Linked DNA regions of Homo sapiens. Changing the gene in region 2 together with the main gene of any one other region gives a genetic interaction. Each region holds a gene or a part of one and is shown on either strand. Other genes may lie near its edges.

Region 1 (4,659 bases), on a different chromosome or scaffold from region 2:
AGGCGTGAGCCACCAAGCCCGGCCGCTGCCGCTCACTTTCTGTGGAAGCCCTCAGGGTGCTGGACGAGTCTCCAACCTCCTTGGGAGCCAGCCAGGGCTCCCCTGTAGCTGGCCCAGCCCTCGACAGGCTGCAGAGAGCAGGGCCCCGCTGGCCGCTGATCACCAGCACTGGCAGCCAGGGCCACCTGGGAGGTTTGGAGCATGGAGAGCCGGAGCTGCGTGCCCGCACGCCTGAGGCTGACACAGGGCCTCACCCTGAATCAGAAGAACCCCCGCAGTGGGGACAGCAGTGCGGGGCCAGCCCCGGCCCTGTCTTCCCTTGTCCTTCCTTGACCCTCGGTCCCACCGTGCGTCAACCACAGCCCCAGAAGGGAAAAGACGCGGAGTGGCCGCCTGACCCTCAGGCCTGCTCTCAGGAGAGGAAGGAAGCGGGACACCTGCAGAGGGGCCGGGGGCCCCAGTCTCCGGTTCCCCTTCAGCGGCCCGGGCTTGCTGAGCCCTCAAAGTAGGACACGCAGCCAGAGACACCTGTGGCCTCACAAGGCCCGCTTGCCCCCCATGGGGTGCCTGGCCCCGCAAGCGCGAAGCGGTCAGAAAAGGGAGGCCGCGCTTCAGGGCTCAGGCCGCCCAAGGGGCCACGATTCGAGGAATCACTCGGGAGGGAGGGAGCGCGCGAGGGCCGGGCTGAGCCCCCGCCCGTGGGTGCGCGCCTGGAAAACTCGCAGCCTCCGCCCTGGGAAGTGGGGCAGCGGCTCCCTTTGTCCGCACCACACCAGGTGGGTGTCCCGGCCGACTCCGCTCGCCACGTGGCCGCGCCCCTCCCCTCCGCCGAGCTCCAGCGGCCTGGAGTGCGCTCGCCCGTTCGGCCCTGCGCCTCGTCCGGGTCCCCGGGAAGCTGCTAAGGAGGGGCCGTCGGGTGGGTGGACGTCCGTCTCGGGTCTGGGTTCCCCGCCGCACCCGCGAGGAAAACCGGGGATGCGCTGCGATGACCGGCAGTAACCCCGGCCGGGGCGCCCGCGGCCGGGGTCAACGCCCGCACTTGCGCCGCGGCCCGCGAGGCATCCGGGACCGCCCCGCCGCCCGCCCATCACCCTATCGCCTAGCAACGCCCACCCGCGCGCCGCCATTGGGCCGGTGCGAACACCCCTGGCGCCCGATTGGTTGCTGCTGCCGCCGCGCCGCGCAACGCCGCGCCCTCAGCCAGCTCCGCGCGGGCAGCGACGGCGGCGTGGAGTCGGCGGCCGAAGTGCGGGCACGCGGGTCCGTCCGTCCTTCCGCGCGCCTGTGGGTCCGAGCGCCCCGCCGCAGCCGGCTGGACCCCCGGTGTGGCCACGGGGTAGTCCCCAGTGTGGCCCAAGCATTCCCATCCCGCACACGTGGCCCCGGCGGACACGGGGGTCGGGGATGGCTCGGGAGGCGCGCCGCGGGCTCGGTCGCAGCCGCGTGCGCGTCGGGGCCCGCGGGGCGGGAGGCGGAAGTCGGGGGGCGGTGGTTTCCCGCCCGCCCCGCCCCCGGCGCTCCTCAGTCCCAGCCCCACCCCCCCAGGCGCGTTCCCGCGCAGGGTCCCGGCTCGGGCGGCGGCGCGCACGAGCATCACCCCACCGGCGGCGGCGCGCCGGGTCCCGGGGCGCAGCCCCGACGCTCATTGGCCTGGGCGGCGCAGCCAAGCTGTCAGCCCATGTGGCGTGGCCGCCCGGGGATGGCCGCGGTTTAAATAGCGTCGGCGCCGGCCTAGAGGGAGCCAGAGAGACGGCAGCGGCCCCGGCCTCCCTCTCCGCCGCGCTTCAGCCTCCCGCTCCGCCGCGCTCCAGCCTCGCTCTCCGCCGCCCGCACCGCCGCCCGCGCCCTCACCAGGTACGAGCAGCCGGCGCTGGGGCCGGGGCGCGGGTCGTGGTCGGGGCTGGGCCCGGGGTTCCCGGGGTGGCCCGGCTCCTCATCCTCCGCTCTCGGGGCGCGCGTGGCCCGGCCCCGTATCCAGGGGTCGCCTGGGCGGCCTGTCCGGGTCTCGGTGTTCGTGCCCCTTCGGAGGCGCCCGGGGCCCCGCGGAGTAGGTGGGCGGATGGCGGGGGAAGGACGCCGGGGAAAGCCACCAACAGCCGCCTTCGCTTCCCGTGGGGGAGGCCGCGGACCCTGAAGGGCCTGGAGGAGCCCCCGGCTCGGCCTCCCCGCGCCCACAAAGGCGCCGCCGCATCCTCCTCCCGGAGCCGCCCCGGAGCCGAGGCCCAGCCCGAAGGGGACGCCGCGAGGGAGGAACGGGGGGGCGCAGGGGCCGCGCCGGGACCGGCCTCCCCATCACGTGGCGCAGCCCGGCCGAAGCGCAGGGGTCCCGAGCAGCCCCCGCCCGGGGCGAAGGGAGGCCGGGCGCGCCGCGGTGTTCCCACCCCCTGCCTGGCCGTCGACCCCGCGTGAATAGCAAGCGGCGAGGACCCAGCGTGCGGGCCTGGAGCTGGCCCGGGGCAGCCAAGCCTCTGTGAATCGCAGCGGGTGGGAAGGCGGCCGCCTCCCTGCCGGGACGGCCCAAGGGAGGCCGCACTGCCGAGGGGCGGCGCGCGTATCAGGCCCTGGGGCCTCGTGCAAGTGGCCAGACCAGCGCTGGCCTCCGCCCCCTCCCCCCAGGGCCGCACCAGCCCTCATGCTGGAGGAGGAGCCGGCGGCCTGGGCACCCGTTCCGGGTCTTAGGGACCTGGGCTCCAGGGAGGGCCTCCTGTGGTGTGTGGGTTGGTATGGGGAGGCAAGCGTCTGTGGGTTCACCCGCGCAGGTGAAGGGTGCCAGGCAACACCTGCGTGTCCTGGCCAGGAGTGGTTCTCCAGGTTGGACCCTGCTGGAGGGGTTGGACTGGCTGGGTCGGTCCACAGTGGGGCAGGGGCCACCTTTCCCCCAGAGCATAGGCTATCCCCATTTCGTCCCTCCCCAGCCCTGGTGGCTCTTGGGCTGGCCTGGACAGCGGGCCCCCACCCCAACACGGGTGAGCATGGGTGCTGAGTACCCCCCTCTAGGGCTCCCAGCCACCTCCATGCCCCGGCTTTGGGACCCTGCCTCTCCATTTCTTTGATGGCCCTTAGCAGGCTGGCCACCTGAGGCCTTGTCCCCATCTCAGGTGACCCTGCCTGCTCCTCACTGTGAGCCCCCTGGTGCCCTAGGGATGGCCTGGGACAAGCTCCAGGAGCCTTGGAAGGCTGAGACTCAGGCGAGTGGAAGCCGACACAGGCGCAGAAACCAGTAACTGCTGGGGAGGCCAGGGCTGCAGGGCTCCAGTGGGGTACCCCAGCCAATACCCTGAACTGAATGGGTCAGGGCCCAGAGGCGGGCCTGTTCCCAGAGCACGCAGCCCCTCCCAGCGAGAGCGGGGTCAGGGCCCAGGAACTGGCCACATGAGGAAGGGAGCCGCAGGAGCCAGGGCCCGCACGGACCCTCAGGGTGGTGCTTGGCCCCATGGGTGTCCACCTGTTCTGGGTGCCGAGGCTGTTGACGGGGGTGTCGTGGCCGGGATGTGTGGGGCACTCACACCGCCCGCCCTGCAGAGCAGCCATGGAGGAGGTGGTGATTGCCGGCATGTCCGGGAAGCTGCCAGAGTCGGAGAACTTGCAGGAGTTCTGGGACAACCTCATCGGCGGTGTGGACATGGTCACGGACGATGACCGTCGCTGGAAGGCGGGTATGTGGCTGCGGGGCTCCCCGTGCCTGGGGTGTGAAGCTCCATCTCCACCTTTGTCCTCACAGCAGCCTCCCTGCTGTGCTGTGTCCTCACCACCCAGGCACTGGCCTGAGGCCGGTCCCAGCTGCAGAGCCACTGGTCACCCATGGGCGAGGCCTAGCTGCAGCCTCCTTCCTGGACATTGCACCAGAGTGGCCTAGAAAATGCGCCCAGCCTGCCAGGAGGTTCCCTCAACGGCTGCAAGGCCAACAGGAGGCTCCCCCAATGGCTGCAAGGCCGAGGGCTGGCCCAGGCAGGGCCCATCTGCTTGTTACGGAGGAGCCAAGCTCAGAGGATGGGTGACGGGCTGGGGTCTCTCACCCATGCAGGGGGTGCGGGGGGCCAGAGCCCTTCCGGCCAGGCTGCCCCTGCCTGTGTCTGTCCTGAGCTGGGAGGTTGCATACCAGATGTGCTCCGGGAGGCTGGAGCAACTGCCCCACACCCAGTAGGCTCTTCCACAGAGCAGCTCTACCTGACAGGCAAGCTGTGAGTCAGCATGGTAGAGCCGAGGCACCAGCCCGGCAGATGGTCCCCCAGCCTCACTCCCGCCGAGCTCTCTGCTCTGCGGCCCATCTCAGGATTGGGGCTTGGGGCTTGGGGCTTGTGCAGCAGATCTGGTCGTACCAGTCCCCGCTTTGGGGCCATGGTCTTCCCCTCCTGGGGAGCCTGCTCCATTGTTTGGGCCTCCCAGGCATAGCAGAGAGTCCTCAGTTCCACCATGGCCCCTCCAGGGGCCTGCAGCACCCCACAGGGCCCCCACCTCTGGGCAGCTTCCGTCAGAGATTTAAACACCCGCCTGTCCCACAGGGCTCTACGGCCTGCCCCGGCGGTCCGGCAAGCTGAAGGACCTGTCTAGGTTTGATGCCTCCTTCTTCGGAGTCCACCCCAAGCAGGCACACACGATGGACCCTCAGCTGCGGCTGCTGCTGGAAGTCACCTATGAAGCCATCGTGGACGGAGGTGG
Region 2 (4,177 bases):
TCTCCTAGAACATCAATGTTTGGTGCAGCTCCAGTGTTTTGAATTCATGTGACACTTTTTGATTTGTAAAAACACAGGCTAAGATCCAAGATGGAAATAACCAGAGCTATGCCTTAGGGCCTCCTCTGTGCCAAGGCTTAGAGCCTTGTAAAGCTGCTTTATCTGCATTAGTTCCCATCCTTATAACATCTCTGTAATGTAAGTTTATAATCCCCATATTACTGATGAGAAAGAGACCACAAGATTAAGAAACCTGCCAAAAGTTACACAGCCAAGGGATTGAGTGGAGCCTAATATTAAAGACTGTCTGACTCTTCAGCCCACATTATTGGTGTACTAGAGAGACAAGAATGGATGTCAGAAAACAGGTTCGGGGGGCAGTACGGGGTGGGATGGCTGAACAATCTATGGTCTTCTAGGATTTCCAGGTGCCAGGGAGCTGGAGGGTTAGAACTAGGTAAGCTTGAAAGTCCCTTCCACCTCTAACAGTCTACGATTCTATCACTACGGTTTATACTGCAAGTTGAGTATCCCTTGTCCAAAATGCTTGAGACCAGAAGTGTTTCAGATTTTAAACTTTTTCAGTTTTTGGACTATGTGCTTTATACTGACCAGTGAGCATTCCAAATTCAAAAATCCAAAATCTGAAATACTCCAATCATTTTTTTTTCCTTTGAGTATCATGTTGGTGCTCAAAAAGTTTCAGATTTTGGAGCATTTTGCATTTTGGAGTTTCAGGTTTGGAATGCTCAACCTGTACTTTAAAAAAGAACAAAGAGAAGACCTCAAAGGCTGAAATCTACATGAGGCAAAGAGTTCGCAGGATGCTCCAGGATCAAAGTAAGGAGAGCTACCACAATTGAAGACCTGAAAGTTGGCAGTAGAGATATGGGATCCAGAAACTAGGGTTCAATACAGAGAAGCAAAGGGAAATCCCAGGAAAAAGGTGAAGGAAGATCCCAGGACAAGAGCTGTGAACAGACATAAAGAGCAACCAGCTCATGCTGGACGACATAGACAGTACCCAGGAGAGGAGAATCATACTTCTACCGGATAATCCGGGCATGAACAAGAGATAAGGATACAAAAAGCCATGCTAATAAAAACAGTAACAAAAATTATTAATGCCAGGGAAGACAAAAAAGTTATACAAGATAGAATATGTTACCACAGGCAGGATGCAATGGCCCATTCCTGTAATCATAGTACTCTGGGAGGCCAAAGTGAGAAGATCACTTGAGGCCGGGAGTTTGAGACCAGCCTGGGCAATGTAGTGAGACCCCCACCTCTACAAAATATTTAGAAATTAGCCAAGCCTGGTGGCACACACCTGTGGTCCTAGCTACTCAGGAGGTAGAAGTGGGAAGGTTGCTTGAGCCCAAAAAGTTAAGGCTGCAGTGAGCTGTGATCCTGCTATGGCAGGGTGACAGAGAGAGACCCTATCTCAAAAAATAAATAAATAAATAAAAAGAGTAAAGAAAATATTAGTATATCATACTCCCTATTCAGTTGAGAATAATACTAACATAATTTTATTAATATAAATCTTGATATTAGCCTAACCAAAAATTATGAGCAAACTATATTGGGAGGATAAAGTGAGTAAGAGGAGGAGTAGGGGGAGGTTGATGATACAAGAGACCTAGAGCCTCAAAGTCCATAATAAAGAAGTACAATTGGACAGGTGTGGTGGCTCACAACTGTAATCCCAATATTTTGGGAGGCTGAGGCAGGAGGATCACTTGAACCCAGGAGGCAGAGGTTGCAGTGAACCAAGATCGTGCCACTGCACTCCAGCCTGGGCGACAGAGCAAGACACAGTCTCAAAAAAAAAAAAAAAAAAAAGAAAAGAAAAGAAAAGAAAAAATAAATATAGTGATGGCCAGGATCAGTGAGTGGCTCACACCTGTAATCCCAGCACTTTGGGAAGCTGAGGTGGGCGGATTGCTTTAGGCCAGGAGTTCTAGACCAGCCTGGGTAACATGGTGAAACCCTGTCTCTACTAAAAATACAAAAAGTAGGCTGGGCACAGCGGCTCAAGTCTGTAATCCCAGCACTTTGGAAGGCTGAGGCAGGAGGATCACCTGAGGTCAGGAGTTTGAGACCAGCCTGGCCAACGTGGCGAAACCACGTCTCTCCTAAAAATACAAAAAATTAGCCAGGCATGGTGGCAGGCACCTGTAATCTCAGCTACTCAGAAGGCCGAGGCAGGAGAATCACTTGAACCCGCGAGGCAGAGGTTGTGGTGAGGCGAGGTCGCACCACTGCACTCCAGTCTGGGCAACAGAGCGAAACTCCATCTCAAAAAAAAAAAGTGGGTCGGGAGAGGAAACTATTATTTAGTGTTACAAGCTCTACTGAACTATTTGACTGTTTAAACCATGTACATGTACAATTTTGACAAAAATTAAATTAAAAAATCCATGTATTATGAAGATATTATGGTATTGTTCAAGATAATGAATGGAGAAAGTAGCTTAATAGATAAGGAAAATGTTGAAAAGTTATTTTTAGTGCAAGCACTTTCTACTACCTAAGAACTTCTTTAAAGATGTTCAATAACAGAAATGATAACAAAATAAGGAATCTTAGAGGCATGAAGAGCCAACCTACAAATGGTAAACAGTGGCTACTTACTCTTTTCACTATGCAACATTTACAGTAACTCTATAGAAACTGTATCTACATACACAGGTCTGAAACAGAGGACTTCAGAAGTTGGTCTTGAGTACTGTGGAGAAGGAAAGAAAAACAAGGAAGATACAGAAGCAGCAGAGAAGAACAGTAGGGAGAAAAGACACTGCAAAGAAGCAGCAGTCAGGATGACCAGATAGCGAAAACATACCTGAGAAGGTTAGTTCCTCCTTACTCAAAGACTCTCAGAAAATCCATAGGAAAGCTGGAAAGAGAACACTATGAGATGCTCAGTCAATTAACTTCTGACTCTTTTTTTTTTTTTTTTTTTTGAGACAGAGTCTTGCTCTGTTGCCCAGGCTGGAGTGCAGTGGCGTGATCTCAGCTCACTGCAACCTCTGCATCCCGGGTTTAAGTAATTCTCCTGCCTCAGCCTCCCAAGTAGCTGAGACTAAAGGCTCACGCCAACATGCCCACCTAATTTTTTTGTATTTTTTGGTAGAGACGGGGTTTTGCCATGTTGGTCAGGCTGGTCTCAAACTCCTGGCCTCAAGTGATCCACCTGCCTTGGCCTCCCAAAGTACTGAGTACAGGCAGGAGCCACCACGCCCGGCCTGACTCTTTCAATAAAGGTCAAAGATACCTGATATGATTTCACAAAACTCCTTTCCTAGTTTAAGTGCCCCAAGTATACCTTTCTCCCCTTTAGGGGTCCTAACGAAACAGAGTAGAGCCTCAGACACTCCTGGACCCTGTCAGTTCCAAAAGGCAATGCCCAAACCTCCCTGAATGATGTGATTTCACAGGACTGAAGAATCTTACCTTTCTCCCTTCCACATACCGGTCTGAGCAGAGCCGAATAGCTTCATTTTAAACTAGAGTCTAGAAGTTAGAGGAGGGGGGCCAGGCAGAGGAAGGAGCGATGCTAACTGTAGACTGAGTATAAGACACCTTAAACACATACAATTTACCACTTACCAGATCTGATCCCTCAATTCTAACACTTTTCCTTTCTATGTCCCAATAAAATTGCCACAAATAAATGAACACTCCAACCCTATTCTTGTCTCAGCAAATAATTTGTTGAGCAACCTTAAGAATTAAAAAGGCAAAAAAACTGGCTAGACAGGTGGCTCATGACCATAATCCCAGCACTTTGGAAGGCCGAGCAGGCAGATCACGTGAGGCCAGGAGTTCAAGACCAGTCTGGGCTACATGGCGAGACCCTGTCTCTACCAAAAAAAAAGGGCAAAAAAACCGAACTTTCTCTAGGTGCTGAGGTATTCTGCTGAGAATCTACAAAACTTCAAAGCCCCTAGTGAGGGCTTAGAGACTGGCAGTAAGGACCTTAGCTGTTAATGTGGATGTTAACTGGGCTAGACTCTTCTGTGTTTCTGTTTCCACACGGGAGCAGGGCCTCAGAGAGGAGTCTACCAGTACTGCGAAGGTGAAGCACTAGTGCAAAGGTGTTTAGGTCAAGTTCAGTGTCACTCGCAGGTCTAAGCCAAACTAAAATTATTCAGTCTAGCAATCCATCCCTTCC

Evidence for each region.
Region 1: changes in FASTKD5 (region 2) and FASN together harm fitness more than expected from each alone (negative genetic interaction), as found in Homo sapiens cells (one large-scale study listed by BioGRID).

What each region holds. Positions count from the first base shown.
Region 1 is NC_000017.11:82,095,316-82,099,974, reverse strand, and holds the start of FASN (fatty acid synthase), read left to right. Parts: upstream 1-1,738; 5' UTR 1,739-1,854; intron 1,855-3,522; 5' UTR 3,523-3,529; coding exon 3,530-3,656; intron 3,657-4,502; coding exon 4,503-4,655; intron 4,656-4,659. UniProt on the Homo sapiens protein: Fatty acid synthetase is a multifunctional enzyme that catalyzes the de novo biosynthesis of long-chain saturated fatty acids starting from acetyl-CoA and malonyl-CoA in the presence of NADPH.
Region 2 is NC_000020.11:3,153,228-3,157,404, forward strand, and holds part of FASTKD5 (FAST kinase domain-containing protein 5, mitochondrial), read right to left. Parts: intron 1-4,177. UniProt on the Homo sapiens protein: Plays an important role in the processing of non-canonical mitochondrial mRNA precursors.